Homo sapiens: one gene and its partner. The protein of the gene in region 1 purifies or fractionates together with the protein of each later gene. This does not show direct contact. Each region holds a gene or a part of one and is shown in the gene's direction. Other genes may lie near its edges.

What was found.
Region 2: the proteins of HERC3 (region 1) and GDA purify together in Homo sapiens (affinity purification with mass spectrometry; 2 studies listed by BioGRID and IntAct, with this or other methods). This does not show direct contact.

What each region holds. Positions count from the first base shown.
Region 1 is NC_000004.12:88,587,829-88,595,484, forward strand, and holds the start of HERC3 (probable E3 ubiquitin-protein ligase HERC3), read left to right. Parts: upstream 1-4,651; 5' UTR 4,652-4,746; intron 4,747-7,656. UniProt on the Homo sapiens protein: E3 ubiquitin-protein ligase which accepts ubiquitin from an E2 ubiquitin-conjugating enzyme in the form of a thioester and then directly transfers the ubiquitin to targeted substrates.
Region 2 is NC_000009.12:72,208,287-72,215,561, forward strand, and holds part of GDA (guanine deaminase), read left to right. Parts: coding exon of another isoform or gene 1-52; intron 53-2,400; coding exon 2,401-2,488; intron 2,489-5,599; coding exon 5,600-5,705; intron 5,706-7,275. UniProt on the Homo sapiens protein: Catalyzes the hydrolytic deamination of guanine, producing xanthine and ammonia.

The sequences.
Region 1 (7,656 bases):
GATGACAAACGTGATCTTTGCTGCTTTTGCCCAAGCACTTATTTTGCCAGTCCAGTCATAGTGAAATGTGGGATGCCATTTCTAAGAGCACATATTAAGGGACTTTTTAAAAGGAGGAACCTTCACGAAATACTTCACTTCCTAAAGGCTTTATTGGATGAAATCTTCAGAGACCAGCTAATGCTCAACTTAAAGGTTTTCTTAGAAAATGTTCAACCATCCAATCCTGTTATCATTAATACATTTTAATTTATATGAAAACAATGAGTTTCTCATAATTAAGGTAAGATTCTTATGCTTCATCCAAATGGCTTGATAAGAAAAAAATGCAAACAAACCATGAATAGTTTCAAGGAAGATAGAGAAATAATCATAAGGGCTGTAAGCTCTTTGTAGTCAGGAATGATGCTTCTTGTCTAGCAGTACTACAGGTGGAACATATTCAATAATATTAAAAGATTATTTGATGGTAATACTGATTTACCATAATGTTTTTATTCTAAGTTGTTTCATATTAATAAATCAATGCTGTGTGTTACAGGACAGTTTTTAATAAGTTTAGTCTGGGTATAGATAGACTGATTTTTCCATTAAGTACTGACTAGACTGAGAAAGTAAGTACTTCTTTTGGACGTGGGGGACCAAGAAACACCTTTGTCATTACATAACCATACAAGGTACACATACTTTTTACTTGTCAAATAATCAGTCAGTGCTTTTCCCTCCTAAAGATATTTATTCTTCAATGGTGTATCTGAGAGACAGAATGTCCTGGGTAGCCTGTTTTTTTCCACAGATTTCATCCAAGATATCAGAAATCTATCTCTTTCAAAGTTTACCAAGTAAATATTTGTCTGCAAGGCAAGTAAATTAAACAAAGGGAAGAAAGGAAAACAATTATCATTAAACAGTATTACCATTCTATTGAAAAATGGTTTCATTTGAAAATAGATGTATTTTAAGAAGTGAATGGTAACTAATGGAGGAAATCAGCATGTGTTCAGGTAGAAGTGCAGCAGCCCTGGGCACCATCCCCTTGCCACTGGGCATACCTTGTCTAACCAGTGATAGAGCTGAACCACATGGTCCTGTCCCCCTGTCAAAAGTTATGGTTAGTTTAATCCTTGCTCCTCGGGAGGCTAAGGCAGCAGGATTGCTTGAGTCTAGGAGTTTGAAGCCAGCCTGGGCAACATAGCAAGATCCTGTCTCTTAAAAAAAAAGTTATGGTTATATGTGTGTGTGTGTGTGTATGTGCACGCGTGTGTGCGTGTGTGTGTGTGTATTTGGAGTCTCCTCTGTCATCCAGGCTGGAGTGCAGTGGTGCCATCAAAGCTCAATGCAACCTCGAATTCCTATGCTCAAGCTATTCTCTCACCTCAGCCTCCCAAGTAGCTAGGACTAAAGGCGTGCCCCACCATGCCTATTTTTATTTTTTGGAGAGACAGGGACTCACTATGTTGCACAGGCTGGTCTCAAACTCCTGGCCTCAAGCGATGCTCTTGCCTCAGCCTGTAACCCAAAGCCCTGGGATTACAGGGGCATGAGCCTAGAATTTATTAAGCCTTTTATTTTTAACATGAATGTTTTTCTTTTATAAAATTTATACAGGTTAGCAAGTATATATTCCTTGGTACAATTATTTGGTTAATGTTTGTCTCCCCTTTCATGGCAACAAAGACTGTACTGTTTTGCTTACCAATGTATTCACAGGGGCTGACATTATTGTAGGTGCTCAGTATATAGTACGTTTGTTAGAGAATATATGAGAATGCAGAAAGAAATGGATGGAAGACAGGGCTATAGAAATGGAAGGAAAAAGTAAACCATGGCCTCTTCAAAACAGTTTACGTATCTGCTGTTAAGACTATTGCTGATGCTGGAGCCATTTAAAGCCATTTTGAAGCAGGACATGCTTGCTAAGGAAATTGTCATTATATGTTGTCCCAATGAAAAAAAATAAATCGAAGTACTGTGGTATCTTTACTGTTCTATGTAAGTTCTATGTAAGTTCTCAGGGTTTGGCTATTTATTTGGTAAAAGAAGCTTACAGTATCCTAACTTGTTATTTATACATTGCTCCTATCCCATTTCTAGGCTTGAGTCTTTGATAACCATCCTTTTCCTCAAGATGAAATTTCATATGAAAAACACTTGAGCCGGCCGGCACGGAGGCTCACGCCTGTAATCTCAGCACTTTGGGAGGCCGAGGTGGGCAGATGATTTGAGGTCAGGAGTTCTAAACCGGCCTGGCCAACATGGTGAAATCCCGCCTCTACTAAAAGTACAAAAATGAGCCGGGTGTGGTGGTGAGCGCCTGTAATCCCAGCTACTCGGGAGGCTGAGGCAGGAGAATTGCTTGAGCCGGGGAGGTGGATGTTGCAGTGAGCAGAGATCGCGCCACTGCACTCCATCCCAGGCAACTGAGCGAGACTCCTTCTCAAAAAAACAAACTCCGGGCGCGGTGGCTCACGCCTGTAATCCCAGCACTTTGGGAGGCCGAGGTGGGCGGATCACGAGGTCAGGAGATTGAGACCATCCTGGCTAACATGGTGAAACCCCGTCTCTACTGAAAATACAAAAATTAGCCGGGCGTTGTGGTGGGCGCCTGTAGTCCCAGTTACTCAGGAGGCTGCGACAGGAGACTTGCGTGAATCCGGGAGGCGCAGCTTGCAGGGAGCCGAGTTTGCGCCACTGCACTCCAGCCTGGGCGACAGAGCGAGACTCCGTCTCAAAAACAAAAAACAAAAAAACAACAACAAAAAAAGAAAAACACTTGAGCCATGGGCCAGACATATCAACCCAAACACTGATTGATTACAAACCTCATATGTGACACCTAACAATAGGATCTCTCACTTTCTCCTTTGCAAGTACCGGACTCCTTCGTCTTCCTACCAGACTCCTCTTTGGGCATTTAACCAGTTCTTTTGCCAACAGCATCTCTAAATTGGGATTGCATCTTTGTAATAGACTAAACTTTTGTGAAACTGCCACATATCTGGAATATAAGTGAATTGTGTTACTCTTGTCCCCAGTGTTTCTTTTTTCCTTTTTCTTTCTTTTTTTTTTTTTTTTGAGACAACGTTTCATTCTGTTGCCCAGGCTGGAGTAAGTACAGTGGCTTGATTTCAGCTTACTGCAACCTCCGCCTTCCAGGTTCCAGTGATTCTCCTGCCTCAGCCTCCTGAGTAGCTGGGACTACAGGCGCACACCACCCTACTCGGCTAATTTTGGTATTTTTTTTTGTAGAGACAAGGTTTCACCATGTTGGCCAGGCTGGTCTCGAACTGCTGACCTCAAGTGATCCACCGGCTTCGGCCTCCCAAAGTGCCGAGATTACAGGCATGGGCCACCGCGCCTGGCCATCCCCAGTGTTTCTAAACGTGTCAAGTGTGATCCAAATTTCAAAGGTTTGGATTTTTTCTTAGATGACCTGATAACTTAGATTCTGCTTTTTTAGCTTTCTTGTCTCAGTGTACTGGACAATTTGCATTATTTCACGGAGGGCTCAACACTGTCAGTCAGCCAACAACGTCTCATCCCCAGGATACACCACTCCTTGAAACTTTCTTTTCTACTTGGTCAGTCTGTTAGGTTCTCAGGACGAGCGATTGCAGACCTGAGGTGATTTGAATGTCCTTGGTAAGAATCTATCCTCAAAGGGCCTTCCTGCTTCAAATGCCAGGTTATAGAAATTCTTCCACTGGGAGAGTTATTCCTTTGGATTAAAGCAGTACCGTGCCAGTGTTCTGCATTTTACATTTAAGGGGGGCAGACACATGAAGTCACCTTTCTGAGGTTTTCTGCAAAAGATTAGCTGTGGATCAGATCAGGTCTAGGGCAAGTATGAAAGCACTAGTGACCTTGGGGAGGGGGAGGAAGCTCTGGGATTCGGCGCTAGGGAAAAGTGGAAGAGGACAAACTTTTAAAAAATCCGTTACTGGGTATAGGCCACAGAGTGTCTTTCAGATTACAAGATTTTAAGATCTGGTGCTCAGACTCTTCTTGCTATGCTCCCCCCGGGTCCACCCTCCAGCCTCCCCCAGGCCCGCCTTTCTTCCGCAGCCCCGTGCCGGTCTTCGATCCCCACCTCTCCAGAAGAGCGCCGGCGGCTGCCGCGTACCTCCTTCCCCGCCTCTCCCACCGCGCAGCGCCGCGGGCCGGCGCCGCGCTTCCTACAGTCCTACGAAGGGGAGTAAAGCAGAAGACTAGCGCACTCTCCCTCAATTGTCACCCTCCAGCTTTTTCCCCCGTGCCCAAGGCTTTCGGTCACCTCTTCATAAATAATAAAAACCAGAGTCCAGAACCTGAATAGGCAACCGCTGATCGGTCCAGCTCGCTTCCCCGCCAGTGAAAAGCAATCTTATTTCAGCGTCAACGCTCTATGTCTTGCAGTCCGATTTCGGCTGACACACCCGTGCCGCTGTCCCCGCGCCGGGCCCTCGAGTCCTGTCACCTCGGGCAGCCTGCGCCTGGCTCTGGGGCCTGGGCCTCTCCCCTCCTCCTGCCCGCGGACCTTGCCGCCCCGCCTCCAGCCCGTGCCACGGCGGCCGCCATTGGCGCGGGCCCATCCCAGAACGGCGCCCATTGGCCCGGTGCGAAGCCATTCACCCAGCGCATTCCGCCGCCCGCAGGCTTGCGGGGAAACTTCCTTATTATTGTGACGCCGAAAACGGAGAAACCCCGGGTCCGGCGAGAGGGGCTGTGACAGTCGGAGTCCCAAGCTGCGGTTCGGCTGCTGCCGAGGTGCGCAGGGCGGGGGCCGGGGTTCCAGGGAGGGGGGTACGGCGGAGCTGCAGCCGCGCTGGGCCGCGTTCCGCCTGGCACTGCAGTCAGCGCGCGGCTCCCGGAGGGGCGGCTGCGGCTCCTCCCGTGGCTCCGGCGGCGGGGGCTGCAGGCACCTCCAGAGACGACCTGGGTCTGGGGCGCGGGGAGGTTGGGGCGCGGCGCCCTTAGTACCCTGCGTACGCCTCCCTGGCGTTCTCGTGGGCTCGCCCTCCGGTCAGAGAGCCCCGCGCCGGGAAAGGCGAGACAAGCCTTCAAAATGGGAGCGCCTCCCGCCCGCGCTCGGCCGCCCTCCCGCCCTGCCGCCCGGGAGGAATTGCGACGCAGAAAGTCAAAAGGAGGATAGTCCCTATGCTCGCCCCCTGCCCCTATTTAAATTCTGGGGTTCCAGGGACCTCCGTGCAGTGAGGGGCGCGGACGCTTTCAATTGAAATGGGAGCTGGCGAGGCCCTGGCATTTTGGGGAACCTCAGCGGCCGCGAGGAGTTTGCGCCGAGGACGCGGTGCACGGCGTCCGCGATGACAGCGCCGGCAGGGCTGCGGGGCCCGGCACCACCCACTTCGCGGAGGCCGGGCCGGCTCGCCTCTCCCGGGTCCGCCTCCTGGGCGGGGCCGGGGGCGAGGGTGTGTGCGGACACGTGTGTACGGGTGTGTGTGTGTGTGTACGCCGACACGTCGGTGCGGACCGACGCGGGGGTGTCAGGAGCTGGGACGGCCGGGGGCAGGTGAGACTTGAGTCATTTGTGAATGTGTGGAGTGGGCAAACCAGGGCAACCAGACCGAGAGGAGCATGTGTAACCTGAAACAGGTGAGCCTATGGAGACAGTACCTAATGCGACTGTGCACGGAATATGTGTATGCAGCATGAGCTCCAGGGAATAAGTATTTGAACTTTGCTGTTGGTCTGTCACTGTTTCTGGCTGCTTTCTGATTGCATTTTACATCAGCTTTCAAATGAGCTCAATTAGGAAGTACCTAATTCAGAGAAAAGCCTTCCAGGATTTTGCTTGCATTCATCACGCATAGAATGCTTTGGGAAAGACGATTCAAGAGCTCTCTTCCATTTGTATGTGTCTTCTGGCTCTTTCCACAAATAAGAAGCTATTTCTAGAACCTTTTATTTGATGATTAGATAAGATCAAGTGAGCTGATTTTTCAACTCTAGACTTGAGAGAAATGAAAAAATAAAAAGTTTTAAATGCGGTGATCGGGTATCATGTTTTAGTCGGCAGATTACTGTGAAGCTCTCTCCTTTTGTACTTTCCTTTACCCTGGGGGAGGAGGGAGTAGCATTATAAATCAGAAAAGCAAAGTACATGGATTGCATATCCTAAAGCAAAATAATTGAATTACATATTTTACATCATGGTCGTACCGCCTTCGAGGCTAGGAACTTTCTGTAAAAAGTATAATGCAGGGAACAAGGAGGACAGGTTAGAAACCTCTTTGGCAGAACTCCTTTGGCATGAAAAACAAAATTAGCACATTAGCACTAGCATCCAGTTCTTGTTCAGTAAGTAGCTGGAGTTTACTTTTTGAAAAAGAAACAGGGATTTCAGAATGTTCCATGTTGTGTGCTTGAAGCCATTCGTTATAGCATTTCATTCTGAAGACCAAATTTAAATTTCTTAAGATTTGTATGACCAATTAAAAACTTTTTTTATACTTAATGAGAGTAGTAGTACCCCTACTGGAGACACAAGATAGTTATGCTTCAGTTTTATAAGTAAAAGTACTATTCTCCAGATCGAATGGGATTTTCTGCATAGAGAGGTAGAAATAAAGTTATGACAATATCTTTTCTTTCGAGATGGGGGGTCTCGCTCTGTTGCACAGGCTGGAGTGCACTGGTGCGATCTCGGCTCACTGCAACCTCCGCCTCCCAGGCTCAAGCGAATCTGCCACCTTACCCTCCAAAGTAGCTGGGACCACAGGCGTGCACCACCATGCCCAGCTAATTTTTTGTAGTTTTTGGTTTCGCCAAAAGACGAAACGGGGTTTTGCCATGTTGCTCAGGCTGATCTCCAACCCCTGGGCTCAGGCTGTCCACCCGCCTGGGCCTCCTAAAGTGCTTGACAAAAATATCTTAAAATCATGGAGGACTTTTTCTTTTGAGATACTTTAGGTATCTCTCTGAGATGATCTCTTCTCATTTTGCATGATGGAGGATGTGGTAATGAAAAGGGAAAGACCGGGTGCAGTGACTGGCTGGGCGCAGTGGCTCACACCTGTAATCCCAGCACTTTGGGCGGCTTGAGACGGGTGGATCACTTGAGGTCAGGAGTTGGAGACCAGCCTGACCAACATGGTGAAACCCCTTCTCTACTAAAAATAGAAAAATTAGCTGGGCGTGGTGGCGGGCGCCTGTAATTCCAGCTACTTGGGAGGCTGAGGCAGGAGAATCGCTTGAACCTGGGAGGCAGAGGTTGCAGTGAGCCGAGATCGGCCACTGCACTCCAGCCTGGGTGAAAGAGCCAGACTCTGTCTCAAAAAAAAAAAAAAAAAAAAAAAGAAAAGGAATGAAAGGAGACAGTCTTCATAACAGTTGTGGCAAAACAAGCTGCTATGTGTCATACATGGAAAAATAAAGAAAATAGACAAAATTTAATTATTTTCCAAAATTTTCTCTAACAAAAATGGGAGATTTTAAAGTAATTCCATTTTTACTACTCCCTATCAAATGTCAGGAATTTTTATAAGGTGATATCTATATCTCTAGTTCACTTTTAGAGGTGATTGATGTCTTTATAACTGGTTAGAGGTTATCTTACTGGTATTTAACCAAACTCCTGTCTTGAGATACAATGCGTGGGGAATATTCAAGATTGAGTAATTTAAAGATATTCTTATTTTCAGAGGTTAACTCCTGTCT
Region 2 (7,275 bases), on another chromosome or scaffold:
CATGGAATGTAAGCAACCTTCTCAAGGTCACGTAGCTAATAACAGGCAAAACGTAAGCAAGAGCCACTGTCTGGAGGGTTTTCCTCTGCATTTAAAAGCTTCTGCTAAAGATATGCCCCAAAGTATTCAATCCACTAGTCCTTTTTCCAAGTGCTCAGACAGGTCAGGCAATATCCGTTCCATTTTCTTTCTTGAAGATCTTCTCACCTCCTCCCATTCTCTTGTTTCTGGTCAGCATTCTCTGTAGCACTACTGTAATCTTGGCATTCTCTTTGCCTCTTTCCTGCGTTTAATGCCCACTCCCTGGATCCAGGAATTACTTTGGATTACTCTTGTGTTTTACTAAAAGACAGTTTCTAAAAGCTTCCTAAGAAAGAGTTCATGGAGAGTAAAATTTTCAAGTCCTTCGGTACTTAATCATATTTCTATGCTACCTTCACACTTGATTGATAATTTACCAAGGTATAAAATTATATGTTAAAAATAACTCCTGTTGTGACAAACAACTTATATGTACTTGTGGGAAGACCTCCTTTTTAATTGCTAGAACATGAGCATTGCATTTTTTGCAAGTACTTAATTGTCTGTGTATCACTGTGGCCCTTAGAAAATTTTCTAAAGTACTTAGAAAATAGAAACCTATATAATAGAGCGTTTTCTATTTTCTAAGTACTTTAATTATTTACTTAGGATTTTTGGTTACAGAATGATATATATGAGTTGAATTTGAAGGCATTGTTCTGCTTCCAGCATTGTTAGTGAGAAATCCAATGTCGTTGTGAGTCCTGTCATTTATCTGTGACCAGTTTTTTTTTTTTTCCTGGAGTTTTTAGCATCTTTTCTGTACTTACGAACTTAATATCTCACAATTATATGCCTTACTTTGGGTTCTCTTTTTATTCCCTGTGCTGACAATTCTATGAGGATTTTAATTTTGGAGATGAATATTATTTTTCATATTTTTGTCCCTTCCATTTATTTAAAAAAATTTAGATTTCTTATTCTAAATGTTGGATTGCCTAGATTGAGCCTAATTTTCTTATGTTCTCACCTTTGATTTTCATCTTTTCCTTTTCCTGAGCAATTCTCTTGTAATTTATCCTACAACCCTCCTACTGGCTTCCACATTTCATTTATAATATTTTTACTTTTGGAGAGCTCCTGCATTCTGATTTTCATAGCATTCTGTTCTTGTTTTGTGGGTGCAATAGTGTGTTTTATTTCTTTGAGGATGTGAGTCATAGTTGTTTTTTTTAACTGAGCTTTTTTCTGACCTTATAGATTATGTTTCCTCTAAGATTTTTTCCAGATTCTTTCTCCCCCTCCTTATCTTTTTGATAATAGATTCCCTCCAATGCCTATCAAACCCTGGACATACATTCATACTGTGATGCTATAAGGTGCTGACTGGAATTTCTGGGTGGAGGTATCACTTGTTGATGGTAACTTCATTATAGGATGAGTAGTGAAGGCAGTGAATTTGGGTCCCAAACGTCACTGTGAAGACATCTTTCTTTTAGAGCCATTCATTTTCTCTAGAAAATAATCGTTTAGTCCCCTGCCAGGAGTTGTGGGAGTAGTACACGTGGTATTCTGGGGAAAATGACTGAGTGCCCTTGAGGTCAGCCAGATTTTCACTTAAACCTCTGCTTTACCTTCTCTTTTGGAGCTTGTACCCTCTAAATACTATCCAGGTTCTATAAAGAGTAAATCTCTCTTATAAGGAAGAAGTTAAGGGTGGTTGGCTGATTTCAACAAGGTTCCTGCCAGGGTTTAATCATACCTGCATAGACTTCCAGCCAGTCCCCTGCTAAAACCCACACACTTCTCTCCTTCTTTCCAAGTTGCTTCCAGGTTCTCGTCCATGTTTTTTGTCTTCCAAGAAGATATTGAAATGTTTTCTCTGCTCATGTCTCTCCTCTCATGTTCTTCTTGTGGGTTAATAACGTTTGTACTCCTTTACTGTCATGTTTGTTGTAGTTTGCGAAGGAAAGGAGATAGATATATGTGATTAACCTTCCAGGTTGAGCTAAAGTCTGGCTGAATATTTTTATTCTGTAGTAGAAGAAAAACTTATTTATGTACTCCCAGATGCAATAAAATTTGGATATCCTTAAACAATCCTAAGAAAGAAGGAATTCATTAGTATCACATTTTAATGAATTCTGAAGCACAGAACTGTGTGAATCGAGAAAAAATCAGAAGTATCAGCTTCTCCTCCAGCTAACTTTTGGAATATAAATACCTTTTGCCATTTACCTAACTGTACTCTACATCAAGATGGCATACCTTTAAATAAAAACATTTTAAAATTAAAAACTAAAATTCTGTTTTCCTCTGGATGTACCATGTGACTTTTCTGAGCACACGTGATTCGCGGTTTTTGTGATTTATTTTTAGAGGAGAACACTAAAGAATGGAACAACCACAGCTTGTTACTTTGCAACAATTCACACTGACTCATCTCTGCTCCTTGCCGACATTACAGGTGAGCAAATGAAGCATGATTTATGGGCACCTCAAGCAAAGACAGCCAGACCATCGTGGCAAACAACTTATATGTACTTTTGGGCAGACCTGCCTTTTAATTGCTAGAACATGAGCATTACATTTTTTGCAAGTAATTACGTGTCTATATGTCACTGTGGCCCTTAGGAAATTTTCTAAAGTACTTAGAAAATAGAAAACTGTATCATAGAGTGTTTTCTATTTTCTAAGTACTCTGATTATTTACTTACAATTTTTGGTTACAGAATGATATATATGAGTCTGAATTTTGTGTATTAATTTAGGGCTTTTTAGGGAAACTTTACTAATTCTAGTTGTGGTAATAGTTTCTTATATCAGCAGATACATGGTGGCTATTGGCTAGAGTCAGGGCACTGTGCTAGATGCTGGAAACGCAATGAGATAAAAAATAGTCTCTGCCCTTGAGAAGCCAGACAGAATACCTACACCATTGATCACTAACCTTAGTAACAACTATGGTGCTGTTACTAGACGTCTAGCATTGTGCAAAGCACTCTGGAAGAATTAGTTCAGCAGCAAACAGCCTTCTGAAGTGGTTACTGATGTCCTCATGTTACAGATGGTTAGACTGACGCTCAGAGAGGATAAGTAACATGCCCAGGGTTGCACAGCTAGTAAGAAGAGCTGATTCTGGATTCGGGTTGATGATTCCAAAACTTGTACCCAGCACAGTACCTGGCACATAGCAGGTGCTCAGTAAATACTGTTGGCTGATACACTGATGCCACTGTTTGCTTATGCAAAAGACCTGACCTAATGGGTGACTCTGAAAATAGATACTACAGTCTTCAGAGAAGGCAAAGAGAACCCAGAACTACGACATCTGGGAAGGCTTTATGAAAGGGTCCTTTAAACTGGGCTTTGAAGTAAAGACAAGATGAGGAGAGGACAAACTGTCTTCTAGATAGGGGAAGGACACAGGTATGGGAACAGGAGTGTCAATAGTGGATGCAGGGACCACAGTAGTTTAACTAGAGGAGTGGATTCATCGCCTGGGGGCAGTGGGAGAAGAGGGTAGGCAGATGGGAGGGTTCACATTGTAGAAGAGCTCAAATATGCACCAAAGACTCAAAAAAGGTTCTGAGTCCAGGTGTGAGTGATGTGATGAAAGTGGTATTTTAAGGAAGATTAATCTAATGGCCAGTTATCTAAATGAATTACAGGGGAAGGAGAGAGGCAGAAAGGTTTTTAAAAATCTCTTATGACAGAGATGGAGACACTGTAAAAACAATTACCATTGTCCCATATAGCCTCAGCTTTCTTGCTGAAATAGAATTCTTCCAGCACCTTTGATGAGGACTAGGTTCTAGTGCTGAGAGCTGCTAGTAAGACTGCGTAAAATTCCTCACAGATAATATTGGCATTGTTTCAGTTAAGAATAGTATGGCCAGGCGCGGTGGTTAATGCCTGTAATCCTGGCACTTTCGGAGGCCGAGGCGGGCGGATCATGAGGTCGGGAGATTGAGACCATCCTGGCTAACATGGTGAAACCCTGTCTCTACTAAAAATACAAAAAATTAACCAAGCGTAGTGGTGGGCGCCTGTAGTCCCAGCTACTCAGGAGGCTGAGGCAGGAGAATGACGTGAACCCAGGAGGCAGAGCTTTCAGTGAGCTGAGATTGTGCCACTGCACTCCAGCCTGGGCGACAGAGTGAGACGCCACCTTAAAAAAAAAAAAGAATAGTAGCAGTATGTTGCCTAGATAACCACATGCCTGACACCTTATATATATTATTGCATGTATTCCTCACAACCCTACACATAGCAGAGAACACTGTACATATATAGGTTTAGACCTTAACCAAATAATATCCACCACCTGGAGTAATCAGAGGAATAAGGAATCAGTCCAAATCTTTCCAATTCCAGTGCTCATGTTCTTATCCCTCAGCCATTCTGTGTTTTGTCTAGAAGAGGACCATGATAGAGAGAGGGAGAGAGAGAGATCCAAGGGATGGTGGTAGAGTAGGAGACAGGAGGGAGATTGTAAGTTGGGGTAGAAGAAGCTGAGTGTAGGTATGCCAATGACTAAGAGAGTCTTTCTTTAGGACCTGAGACTGTTTGCTCCTTTACCATGTGATAAAATGAGAGCAAAGATAGTTACATATTTAATGAAAATATAGACACACTGGATAAGCAAAGGGAAAAACTGAATAATAACTTAAAAACACCCAGCCAAGCACAGTGGCTCACGCCTGCAATCCCAGCACTTTGGGAGGCCCAGGCAGGCAGATCACAAGGTCAGGAGATCGAACCATCCTGGCCAACATGGTGAAACACTGTCTCTACTAAAAATACAAAAATTAGCTGGGCACAGTGGTGCGTGCCTGTAATCCAAGCTACTCAGGAGGCTGAAGCAGGAGAATCACTTGAACCAGGGAGTTGGAGGTTGCAGTGAGCCCAGATCACGCCACTGCACTCCAGGCTGGTGACAGAGTGAGACTCCGTCTCAAAAACAAAACAAACAAACAAACAAAAAAACCAAAAAACCCACCTGACAGCCTGAGAATGGGGATGGGGGAGGTAGTGGGTTAAAGTGATGAATAGAAAAACTTTTACTGTTTACTGAATATAGTAGGGAATTTGTGGTGGTTCTTGTTCTTAAGTGGTGTGATGGTGGATGATCTTTTACATTTTCATTTATGTTTTCCATATATGATTTTAATTTAAAAATTACTGTTGAAAGCTTAGAAAAAGTACTGTTTTGGCCGGGCGCGGTGGCTCACGCCTGTAATCCCAGCACTTTGGGAGGCCGAGGCGGGCGGATCACAAGGTCAGGAGATCGAGACCATCTTGGCTAACACGGTGAAACCCCGTCTCTACTAAAAATACAAAAAATTAGCCGGGCGCGGTGGCGGGCGCCTGTAGTCCCAGCTACTCGGGAGGCTGAGGCAGGAGAATGGCATGAACCTGGGAGGCGGAGCTTGCAGTGAGCCGAGATTGCGCCACTGCAATCTGGCCTGGGCTAAACAGCGGGACTCCGTCTCAAAAAAAAAAAAAAAAAGAAAAAGAAAAAGTACTGTTTCAGAAACAAACATGCCTTCATATTCTTTTTGTGTATACTTTACAGATAAATTTGGACAGCGGGCATTTGTGGGCAAAGTTTGCATGGATTTGAATGACACTTTTCCAGAATACAAGGAGACCACTGAGGAATCGATCAAGGAAACTGAGAGGTAAAAGGCCCATTTGTCTTGATTTGTCTTACAGGTGAATTCCTGTGCTGCACTGATGGAGTTAGAGATGGAAAAAGGAAACAGGATACTGTTATCACCCAGTTGGGATGTGCACATAGTGACTCAGAATGTTCTGTTTAATGCAATGGGTCGGTTAGTCTACAGTGAATTTGATCAAACACTCGATAATCATTAATGATTTACAAAGAGCTTTCCTTTGTAGTGCCACACTTGATCCTCATAGAAATCTCCATGAAGCATCTGTCTTTTTATTTATTTTTTATTTATTTTTATTTTTTTTTTTTGAGACGGAGTCTCACTCTGTCATCCAGGCTGGAGTGCAATGGCGTGGTCTCAGCTCACTGCAACCTTCAGCTCACTGCAACCTCTGCCTCCTGGGTTCAAGCGATTCTTCCACCTCAGCCTCCTGAGTAGCTGGGACTATAGGTGCATGCCACCACACTCAGCTAATTTTTGTATTTTTAGTAGAGACGGGGTTTCACTATGTTGGCTGGGCTGGTCTCGAACTCCTGACCTCGTGATCTGCCCGCCTCGGCCTCCCAAAGTGCTGAGATTACAGGCGTGAGCCACCACGCCCAGCCCACATCTGTCTTTTATGATAAGGAAGCTGAGTCTGACATAGGCTAAGAGGCTTGCTCACAGTCATACAGCTTTTAAGTAGTGGAGCCAGAATTCAAAACCAGGGTCTATGACTCTAAATTCAAAGTTCTTTTTTTTTTTTCTTTTCTTTTCTTTTTTTGAGACAGACTGTCACTCTGTCACCCAGGCTGGAGTGCAATGGCGCGATCTCAGCTCACTGAAACCTCCACCTCCTGTGTTCAAGAGATTCTCCTGCCTCAGCCTCCCGAGTAGCTGGGATTACAGGCACGTGCCACCACACCCAGCTAATTTTTGTATTTTTAGTAGAGACGTGGTTTCACCAGGTTGGCCAGGCTGGTCTTGAACTCCTGACCTCAGGTGATCCACCTGCCTTGGCCACCCAAAGCACTGGGATTACAGGCATGAGCCACTGTGCCCGGCTCAAAGTTCTTTCTCTCATGATATAGATCACACCTCATATTCAATGTAAGTAAAGAGAATAAAAGAGAGAGAAACAGAGGGTATGCAAGAATACTTGCTATGGCATGTGTTAATTTAAAAATGATGATGGAAGTGAATAATTATTTGTGAAATAAAATAGTATACAAGAAGTTAGGAAAAATGAGTTATAGTTACAGGTTAATGAAAGACTTTCACTACAAAAGGATTTTTTTAAAAGATACCAAAGTAATATGTGTTTCCATGGTCCAGAACTTAGAGAAACACAAAAAGGTATAAAGAAGAATTTTTTTTTGTAATGAAACCACCAAAAGTTACCATAATAGGGTATCTTTTATTGTTTTCTCAAGGTGGTATATGCATCCTTCACTACTATTTCGTCCTACCTTGGGAACAGGAAAGTTGTTCTGGATGTATGCTGTAATGGCCATAACAGGCTAATATAGGGATCTAGAATATCCCCTCTCCACAAAGGTGACCTGAAAGAACATCTCTGCAAGCTGAAATGCAG